Homo sapiens: one gene and its partners. The protein of the gene in region 2 interacts with the protein of the main gene of each other region in a pairwise test. Each region holds a gene or a part of one and is shown on either strand. Other genes may lie near its edges.

Region 1 (2,946 bases), on a different chromosome or scaffold from region 2:
ATCTCCTGACATTGTGATCCGCCCGCCTCGGCCTCCCAAAGTGTTGGGATTACAGGCGTGAGCCACAGCCCCCGGCCCATAGTTTTCCTTTTAAGAAGAAGGATTGGAACGAGGATACTGCTCTGCCACAAACTAGAAGACCCCTACAACCCTGGATCCACAGCTGTTTGCAGCCGATCCTCATGCAAATTGCCAACAGATACAGGTGGGAGGTGAACCAGGGACATCTGGACAAGAGGCGCACAATCTCAGGCTTGAAGCACTGCTGAAATGAAATGACAGAGGGTGTTACAGCTGTGGCGTTGCTCACAACAAATGGCAATGTTAAAAAAAAAAAACTTTTCTGTGTCATAAAAAATAATTCAAGTATTTTTGATGTACTATTTCTAAAAGAAACACCAAGTTTTACTTCCATTTGTTCTACAGAAAATCATGTGGACAAAACCATTGTCATGTGTAGAGATGATCAAAGACCGACTATGCAACCAAAAAATGTAGAAAAAGATTATAGATGAGGATGATGATAAAGGTATATTATTGTCTTGATTTTGTGACATCTTGGGTTTTGTTAACTATGGAAGTTTTTATTCTAAGTTAATATCCATGTTTATATCTATTATTATATTCCTAATATTGTGTTTTTAATGAGGATCTCCAAATTATACTTTTCAACACCACAAAACCTAAATCCACCTCTTTAAAGAGGGCTGGGACAGAGTCACGAAAAACATAGAAGCTGGTGTTACCCCGCAAATGCTCAGAAGGCAGTCAACATTTTGAGGTGGGGGTTTAGAGGTGTTGTAGACAGGTAGGCTCCAGAACACTTACAAATATGAATGCATCATACAAAAGTCATCAAATAAGTTTATTTGAAAGCATTTTGATTTGCTTTTAGGATGGAGTCCTGAGCATCCTTCTGCTATTGTGACTACTCTGACTTGTTTCCTACCTCATCTCAGCAGTGTCTTCTACTTTCCTTTTTTTCACATGGGTCCTTATTGTTGTATTTGTATTTATTTATTTTTTGCTTTTGTTTTGATTTCTTTTTTCTAAATACTAATTTTTTAAAAAAATTTGTTCAAGATGATATCTATGTCTAGTTATCTCTCAATTCCTTTGGCTTACTTTTATATAGGCCCTCGAGACTGGACTTACAAGCACTGATTATAGTAAATAACAGATGGCAAACTATTTTGGAGAGTGTGAACAATAAGATTTCTGCCTCTAGGCCACTGACAAAAAAAGATGAATACATTGCTATCCCCACCCAAGACAGAAAGAATTTCCCAGCCAAAACAGGAGCAGATGTATAAATCATGGGCAGAGAAAATAAGAGGGGTTTTCCTGGACATAATGGAGTAGGGACTAATCACATACTGTCATAGCATTTGTAACATAAATGCATTTCATTGACGCAGAGCTGTAAAAACAAAAGGAGTTCTTCCATAAATATAAGATGAAGGGTGTTAGTTAACTGCAATGACAAAGAAGATTACTAAGTTGCTTATATGAAATGTGGGAGCTTAAATGTGTGAAGGATGACCCTGTAAGGTGCCACACCCACGGCTGAACGTATATAAATGGTCCTGTCCAGATGTGGCATGCAAACTCAGAATCTTCTCAGTGTAACTCAGCTGAACTCACATCTCCCATCAACATGTCCTACAACTGCTGCTCTGGAAACTTCTCCTCCCGCTCCTGTGGTGGCTACCTGCACTACCCAGCCTCCTCCTGTGGCTTTTCCTACCCCAGCAACCAGGTCTACAGCACTGACCTCTGCTCTCCCAGCACGTGCCAGCTGGGTTCCTCTCTCTATAGGGGCTGTCAGCAGACCTGCTGGGAGCCCACCAGCTGCCAGACATCCTATGTGGAGTCCAGCCCCTGCCAGACCTCCTGCTACCGTCCCAGAACCTCCTTGCTCTGCAGTCCCTGCCAGACAACTTACTCTGGGTCTCTAGGCTTTGGATCCAGCAGCTGCCGCTCCCTGGGCTATGGATCGAGGAGCTGCTACTCAGTGGGCTGTGGGTCCAGTGGCTTCAGATCCCTGGGTTATGGAGGCTGTGGCTTCCCTTCCCTGGGCTATGGCGTTGGATTCTGCCGCCCAACCTACTTGGCTTCTAGGAGCTGCCAGTCTTCTTGCTACAGACCAACTTGTGGATCAGGCTTCTACTATTGATCATCTTGTTAAATTGCTGATTTTGTTGGCTAATGCCTTCAATGCCTCTACTCATAACCTTTATTGTCTTCATCATGTACAGAAAGAATTAGCCTCTTATTCTATAATTATCAAGTTCTCAGTTTGTCTTTGTCCCCAAATACTGGCTGGCAGGCTTCATCTGAAAAACTGTAATTGGAGAACTAGCTCAAAATAAATCTTGAAATACACATTAAAAGTAGAATTTATATTATTCGATTTTCTTCCACAATTGTATAAAAAGTCAAATCATTTTAATCCAATAAATCCATTGGTCTCATATTCAGCTATGTTTGTGGTGGTTTTATATTGCTAGGGTTTTGGTTGTGATGTATTAGGCAATTATTATGAAACAATTGGTGTATATATATAGGAATAGGTTTCAAAATCATATGAAGTTTGCGATTCAGACAAACTTTTGGGGGCCTCAGAGATTTTTGTTATTCAAACTACAGGTAGTGGAAGTCTACTAAATTTACAGACTTTTATTCATTAAAATATCAGAATCAGGAATTAGCTTGATCCCCTTATAAAATGTGGATTCTTGTGTCTATGCCAACAAGCATAAGGTAGCAAACTAGTTGATAGTTATATCAGGAATCTGCAGAGAAAAAAATACTATTTAGAACAATATGGTTATAGATATACATAAAAGAAAAATGGAATTGAAGAGAAACAAAAGTGATTTGAAGTAACTTTTGAAGTCACCCAATATTTGTTGGTAATCATGATCAAATGCCTGCATCTCATTG
Region 2 (3,654 bases):
AGAGGGCCCCTGTATCTGCAGGGCCTAGAAGTCAGAGTTGCTGAGGATGGCTTCTCGGAGCACAGCCATCTCTGCAAAAGGTACATAGTCTGCTCCTGGGGGTGAAAACCAGTGCAGATGTGGGATGCAGGTAGGTGGGTGGTGGGGAGGTGGGCTGAGGGAGCGCGCTAGTCCTGGAAGGGATGGTTGAGGATGGGAGTGCCTTCCTGCCTGGCCTTCTGACTACAGACCCTGGAATGGCCCCCTGTCCCAGGTTTCTGCCTCACCGCGAGGCCTTCCTCCTCGTTGCCGGGTCTTCTGGGTGTCAAAGAAAGTCTCGTGTTCCTCCCAGCGCCGGTCACAGGCCGCACAGAGGAAATTAGACTCAAAACAGCCGCAGCAACAGCCTGGGGCAAAAGTGCAGCCAAGAAGAGTTTAGGAAATGGTGGTATCCCCAGGAGCTGACCACATTCTCATCTCTTCCTCAGTGACCGCATGCCCAAGGCTCTCATACCTGCTCTCCATCATTATCCCCAGATTGCATCCTATCCCCACCTACCCTGCTCCCAATACACCTCTTGCCCTAGAAGTTACCATGATGCCTGCAGGGATGGGGCCCAGTGGCTGCATGTTCTTCGTGGCTGTGTTTGCAGCGACATTGGGCCCTCCAGGCCTTGGGGTCAAAGGTGGCCCGTCTCTTGAGCCAGAACTCACCCACCTCCTCTGGGCGTGATGGGATAAAGCAGAACATGAAGCAGCGGCACTGGCTTACCTTGCAGGGCACCGATATGTCTGTGGGATTGGGGATGGATGGTAGGGTTAATCTGATAGGACCTTGCCTTCTCATGCCAACCCCATCCTCCATCCCCACCACCCCCTATGCACGCAGACATGCTTTTTTTTTTTTTGAGATGGAGTTTTGCTCTGTCGCCCAGGCTGGAGTGCAGTGGCATGATCTCAGTTCACTGCAACTTCCGCCTCCTGGCTTCAAGTGACTCTCCTGCCTCAGCCTCCTGAGTAGCTGGGACTACAGGTGCGTGCCACCATGCCTGGCTAAATTTTTTGTATTTATTTATTTATTTTTTAGTAGAGACGGTGTTTCACTGTGTTAGCCAGGATGGTCTCGATCTCCTGACCTTTGATCCACCCGCCTCCGCCTCCCAAAGTGCTGGGATTACAGGGGTGAGCCACCGTGCCCAGCCACATGCTCTCTCTCATACTTCCCAAGACATGACAGAGTACAGTTATTCCTCCACACTCGAGAGGGGCTGGTCAGTTCTCCCCTACCTGAGATGATCCGGTGCTCTCTCAACAAGTGTCCACAAAAGCATCTGGACTCATCCCCAATCCGGAAACAGTCCCATAGGTAATGGGGGCAGCGCCAGCCAATGTAGAGACCTAGGTATGCAGGATTAAAAGTGAGAAGTAAAAAAATTCTAAGCTCCCCCGAAGTGTTCTTACCTATCCCTTGATGGAGGTGAGGGGGTGGGGGGAACTTACCTCTCCCCACCCCCAGGTATCTTTATCTCCACCTGGAAGTCCTCACCTCTACCCCTTAGATTTTCTTTTTCCTCAGGGTTTTCTCATTACCCCAGAAGTGTCTTCAGTTCTCTTCCTACCCAGGATCTACTCCATCTTTGTCAGCCTGCCAGAGATGACTCAAGAGAGTGGTTTCTGAGCAGGAAGATTATAGATGAAATTTTGTTTGAGGATGAACATGAATCTCACTGAGTTCTCTGTGACCACAGGGATTCTCATCTCCTCTCCTCATCCCACTAAAGCCCAACTTTGCTTTGTTTTCTTGAAGTGTCTAAGGTGAGGGAAAGGGAAGATGATTGGCCAGATGTACAGACAATGGGATTGGCTCCTAAGGAGCATATTTATTGAAGGTCCTGAAGAGGAGAAGGAGGTTGGATAGCTCTGGTGCTGGAAGGTAGGAGGAGGGCTTCCTCTCACGTCTCCACGTTGGTACCTTAATACCTCCCTCTGTGTTCCTGGTGCTATTGTACCAATGCTCTCTGTGTACCTAAGAAGGGCTGCCAAAGGTTCTTCAAGGGTCAGGAGAAAGGGGTAGGTAGCAGTCATGAGTGGTGAAGACCAAAAATTATATATTTTGAGGCTAAGCAAGGAGGCGTGGAAAGGAAAGTGAGGCTAAGAAGTGTCCCTGAGAGTAGGCACCAGCAAGAGGTCACAACCCTCGAGAGCTGGTGTTCAGCAGTGAGGTCTGAATCCCTGGCTTCGTGACTAGTCTTGAGGTGAGGGTGGTGCTGTGCAACTGAGGGAGGATAACCAGATGGCACCTCCAATTCAGATTTTCTCATTCTCCATGAGAACTGAGAGTACCCCAACTTCTAGCCAAGAATCCTGTATGAGGCCCCATGCAGTGGGACTGCCAGGTGTAGGATTCTTAGTCCCAATTAAAGGCTCAACTGAAATGTCACCTCCACCAAAAAGGTGTCCCTGACTTCCCCTGTCTGTCTGGGCCCCTCCTATTGCCATCCATAGCTCCTTGTGCTACTCCTGTTGCAGTACACTGCATTATAATAGATCATTCCCTTGTATTCCTATTAGTCCATGAGTTCTTCAAGGGAGCTGTCTTTTCACCCGTATCTCTCATCCTAGCACAAGGCCTGGCACAAAATGGTTGCTGAGAGAACGTAGATTGCCTGATTAAACAATTGAGCTCATTCCTTCAAGAGGAAGAGAGAGCCAGTATTCAGGCATAACCCTGAGGTTCCATAACATGAATAAGGAGAGTGGCATCATCTGGTCTTTGACTGTGGTCAGGGCCACAATTCACAATTCCGTGCCTCAGATTAAGTTTTCTTGTCTTACCCATAGTCTGTCAGGATCTAAAGCCTGTCTAGATGTGGCTTTTGGCTTTGCTTCTTCTGTCTTGATGCTGATTGCCTGTAGTGCCAGTGCCCCCTTACACCAGGGAGGCTTTGTTGAGAGAGCAAGGTATAGGCAGTCACAATGCAGGTGGGCGGGAGCCAGGATTCCACTAGAGGAGTTCCGAATTCTGTCTGGAGTAGCAGGATACATTAAAAAAGCAGGAGGTGAGGCCCAAAGATCAAGGCCTGCTCGGAGGGCCGGGGGGCAGTCAAGTCCAAGCACTAGTGTAGGAATCAGTGCCCAGCATTCAGATGAAGAAGACTGGAGTTTGAACAGGGAGACTGGCAACTATACTTCAGATTCTGTTACAAGTGTTAGTGCTCTTAAAGTGGGACAATTGGAAGGTGGCTGTGGATTCCAGTGGGACCCTCTACTCTCTGTCCTGATTCCAAACTCCCTTCCTGTTGTGGGTGGACAAGGCCTGGCGGGGGAGGAGACATTATTTGGGATGCCATTTTGATTCTGTCTAACACAGTCCAGTTCCACAATCACATAATCACATTTGCATGATGACATCTCTTTATGCATAGTATGTCTCCATAAAACACATGGCTGTCTTTACAGGAACAATGTCTCCAGCCTAGCCCTCTCTCCTGAGCTTCAGACCCATATAGCCAGCTGTCTACTAGACTCTTGGGCCAGCATGTTTCATAAGCACTTCAAATGTCTTATGCCCAATTATTCCCTCCAAACCTGGCTCTCATCCTTTGTCCTCTGTTCATCCAACACATGCCTACCAAGCATCTACCCTTTTCTAGGCATTCAGTTAATGGCACCATT
Region 3 (3,654 bases), on a different chromosome or scaffold from region 2:
GCCCCAAACCTGACCTAGCCTTGGGGGTGCCAACCGGGACCCCTGGACCACCATCTACTGCACGATTTGACCAGAGCCCCCGTCGGTTTGTACCCATGCAATATACAGAATTTTTGGCTTGGATCGTGCCCAAGCACCAGAGAGCTGCAAGGGGCTTTCAGGAAGGGAGTTGCGTAAAGAATCAAGCACTTGCTGGCATAAACGGACAGAGTCCTTGCTCTGGAGAACGAGGCATCAGAATATTTCACAGCGGCCCAAGAACGACATTCCAATGTCACTCTCCCCAGGCAGACAGACGGGACTCATTCCTTCCCCGTGAGAGGAACTAAGTTATGCAAATCAATGCACCCATCAATCGAGCATCTCAAAATCTCAATAAACAGGAGGCAACGGGAACACCTAAAAGAGGGCAATAAAGGAGTGCAATTTAGTTGTATTCTGTGTTGCAACAGAGAAGAGCCTCGGGATCATCAAACCCCAAATCTGGCCGGGTACAGTGGCTCACACCTGGAATCCCAACTCTTTGGGAGGCTGACGCGGGTGGATCACGAGGTCAGGAGATCGAGACCATCCTGGCTAACACGGTGAAACCCCGCCTCTACTAAAAATACAAAAAATTAGCCGGGCATGGTGGTGGGCGCCTGTAGTCCCAGCTACTTGGGAGGCTGAGGCAGGAGAATGGCGTGAACCCGGGAGGCGGAGCTTGCAGTGAGCCGAGATCGCACCACTGCGCTCCAGCCTGGGCGACAGAGCGAGACTCTGTCTCAACAACAACAACAACAAAATTAAGCCCAAATCTAAAACAGGGACCCAAGCTGGGCTGCTGGATCCTAACCACAAAGGACAGATAAGCTCCCAGCCTGTTTCCCTCCCTCCTTCCCATTAACTAATAAAACATAAACTCGGCTTCCTCACCTGCAGTCAGCTTCCACCTTCCATACTCCCCTAAACCTGCTCTTGCCAAGATAATCAGTTCTTACTGCTACATCTAACACTTTTCAGTCCTCAGAGACATTTCACACACGTGATCTCCTTCAGTCTCTGTCTCTCTGATTTCCGGGAGGCCACACTCAGCTGGTGTTCCCGCTCTGAGGATTCTTTCTATCCCTTTTTTCAGGGCTCTCTCTCAATCCAGATTTTAAGCCTGGTACCCCTTGGGGTCATCATCAGTGTCTTCCCTTATCACTATGTAGACTCTCCTGGGTTGGTCTTCTCCACCAAAGGGGACTTCAGTGACCACCAGGAGGAAGGACCCTCCACACCTCTCGCCCTGAGCCCCACCGCTGTCCTGGTCTGCACACCCCTCGACCCGACTGCACATATCCAGGCACCTCCGGCTCCACCTGCCCACGCCGGATCCTCCCCTGCGATCATTTCCTCTGTGCAAGGGGGAATCACAGAGCTGGAGTCAACCTTCCCGTCCCTCACCCTCCTTGCCACACACAGTTGTCAGGGTTTTTTTCTGTTTGAAATTTGTCTTTGGTCTGCCCCAGGCCTTTGTCCCAGTTCCCATCGACTTAGGTCCTGGCACCTTCATCTCTCACTGTCCTTTTGCCTCACCCTCAAAGCTCCCCTCTGCCAGAGAGATCTGAGCATTTCATCACTGGCTTAAAACCCTCCAGCCTCCGCCTTGCTCCCTCATCCTGTGAATAAACTCCAAATCCCTTCCCGGGTCACACTGGCCTCTCCATGCCCCAGCCGCAGCTTACCTCGCTGGCCCTATCTCACCCCCACCGATGTTCCCTCCAGCCTTATGCTGGGATTACAGGAGTGGCCACTGTGCCTGGCCAACAAGGCTAATTTTGAAACTTTTGTAGAGGCAGGGTCTCACTATGTTGCCCAGGCTGGTCTCAAACTCCTGGACTCAAGTGATCCACCCACCTCGGCCTCCCAAAGTGCTGTTATTATAGGCATAAGCCACCCAGTCACGTGTTTTATAACAGGTGTTTTATATATATAACAGCCAGCCAGGTATTATTATTACTCGTCTTAAAGAATGATCTGCTAGGTTTGGTGATGGCCTATAAAGGCAGGAATTCACTGATTCAGCATTTTGGACATTTACAATGTGCCAGGCATGGCTCCAGGCACTGAAATACACCAGGGGACAAAATGAAGTCCCCACCCTCATGCACCATAGAGTGCAAACAGGGGAGTGTCCAGACACAAACAAGGGGCCTAGGGCAGTGGTGCATGCCTATAATTCCAGCACTTTGGGAGGCCCAGGCAGGAGGATCATTGGAGGCCAAGGAGTTCAACACCAGCCTGGGCAACATAACAAGACCCCATTTCTACAAAATATGAAAAATGAGCTGGGCATGGTGGTGTGCACCTGTAGCCCCAGCTGCTCGGGAGGCTGAGGTGGGAGGATTGCTTCAGCCTAGGAGTTGGAGGCTGCAGTGAGCCATGATCACACCACTGCACTCCAGCCTGGGCAACAGAGTGAGACGCTGTCTCCAAAAAGAAAGAAAAAAAAGAAAGGAGAGAGGGAGAGGGAGAGGAAGAGGGAAGAGGGAAGAGGGAAGGAGAAGGAAGAAAAGAAAAAGGAACAAACCAGAACTGCAAATAAAAAAACAGGAAGGGGTGAGCACGTGACACCAGGGAGCTCCCATCCTGTTCGTGTGGCTTCAATCCCCGGCACCTGGGTTGAGCTGCAGCTCAAACGCTAAGGAATGAATGCGCCAGGGCACAGCTGCAGGGAAATCGAGGATAGCTGGATCCTTTTGGTGCCAGGTGATGGCACCAGAGAGCACAGGATCTGGTCCCCGCGGGCCTCTCCAGCCGCCCCTGCACCCTCACTCCCCACCTTCATGCGGCTGTAGACGGTGGAGACGGGCGTGACCGGGTGGTGTTGGTGGGAGCCCAGCAGACCGCAGAGGCCACAGATGAGCTCCTGGTCCTTCTCGCAGAAAAGGCTGAGCGGGTTCCGGTGGTGCACGCAGACCTTGGGCTCCGGGTCCCCAGGGAGCCTCAGGGCTTCGATCACCCTGGCCAGGGAGACGTTGGGCAGGGAGCTGCTGCCGTCCACCGCCTGCCGGCACACGGGGCAGCGCAGCTCGGCATCCAGGTGGCAGGACAGGGAAACCAGGCAGCCCTTGCAGTAAGAGTGGCCACACTGCAGCATCAGGGGCTCCTTGAAGACCTCCAGGCAGATGGGACACTGAAGCCGGTCCTCCAGCTCTGGCAGGCTCACCTGCCAAGCCATCCACACTCACTGCCCGGGCTGAAACACAGGCATCCGACCTCAGTCCTGTCCCCTCCCCTCCCCCTGTCCAGCACTCATCCACCACCCTCAACCCTAAGGAGCACCAGAATTTTAGAGGAAACACTTTGAGTCCTGGATCCCAGTCCTAACCCACATGACCTTGGGCCCCAGTTTCCGCAGCTGTAAAACAAAAGACTGCAGTGAAAAAAACTGGTCCCTTGAAGATATGTGTGTGTGTGTGTGTGTGTGTGTGTGTGTGTGTGTGTCTACATTTTTTACTCAAATTTGGAGACAAGCATGAAAGGGGCCATCTGCAGGGTCATTTGCAGTGACACTAATAATGCAAGGTCCAGCCCCAGCATGCATCCGGACCTAGAACTGAACAGCAAAACCTAGGCAAGCTCCCCACCTTCTAGATCAGTTCCCAAACTTTCGGGAAACTGTTGAAA

What was found.
Region 1: the proteins of FAM221B (region 2) and KRTAP13-1 interact in a two-hybrid assay, tested with the Homo sapiens proteins (one large-scale study listed by BioGRID).
Region 3: the proteins of FAM221B (region 2) and TRIM50 interact in binary tests that used the Homo sapiens proteins (3 or more experiments, as listed by UniProt).

What each region holds. Positions count from the first base shown.
Region 1 is NC_000021.9:30,394,430-30,397,375, forward strand, and holds KRTAP13-1 (keratin-associated protein 13-1), read left to right. Parts: upstream 1-1,601; 5' UTR 1,602-1,657; coding exon 1,658-2,176; 3' UTR 2,177-2,393; downstream 2,394-2,946. UniProt on the Homo sapiens protein: In the hair cortex, hair keratin intermediate filaments are embedded in an interfilamentous matrix, consisting of hair keratin-associated proteins (KRTAP), which are essential for the formation of a rigid and resistant hair shaft through their extensive disulfide bond cross-linking with abundant cysteine residues of hair keratins.
Region 2 is NC_000009.12:35,818,624-35,822,277, forward strand, and holds part of FAM221B (protein FAM221B), read right to left. Parts: intron 3,006-3,654; exon of another isoform or gene 2,819-3,005; coding exon of another isoform or gene 2,815-2,818; intron 1,378-2,814; coding exon 1,267-1,377; intron 772-1,266; coding exon 574-771; intron 387-573; coding exon 267-386; coding exon of another isoform or gene 223-266; exon of another isoform or gene 1-222.
Region 3 is NC_000007.14:73,321,583-73,325,236, forward strand, and holds part of TRIM50 (E3 ubiquitin-protein ligase TRIM50), read right to left. Parts: intron 3,224-3,654; 5' UTR 3,206-3,223; coding exon 2,807-3,205; intron 1-2,806. UniProt on the Homo sapiens protein: E3 ubiquitin-protein ligase that ubiquitinates Beclin-1/BECN1 in a 'Lys-63'-dependent manner enhancing its binding to ULK1. In turn, promotes starvation-induced autophagy activation.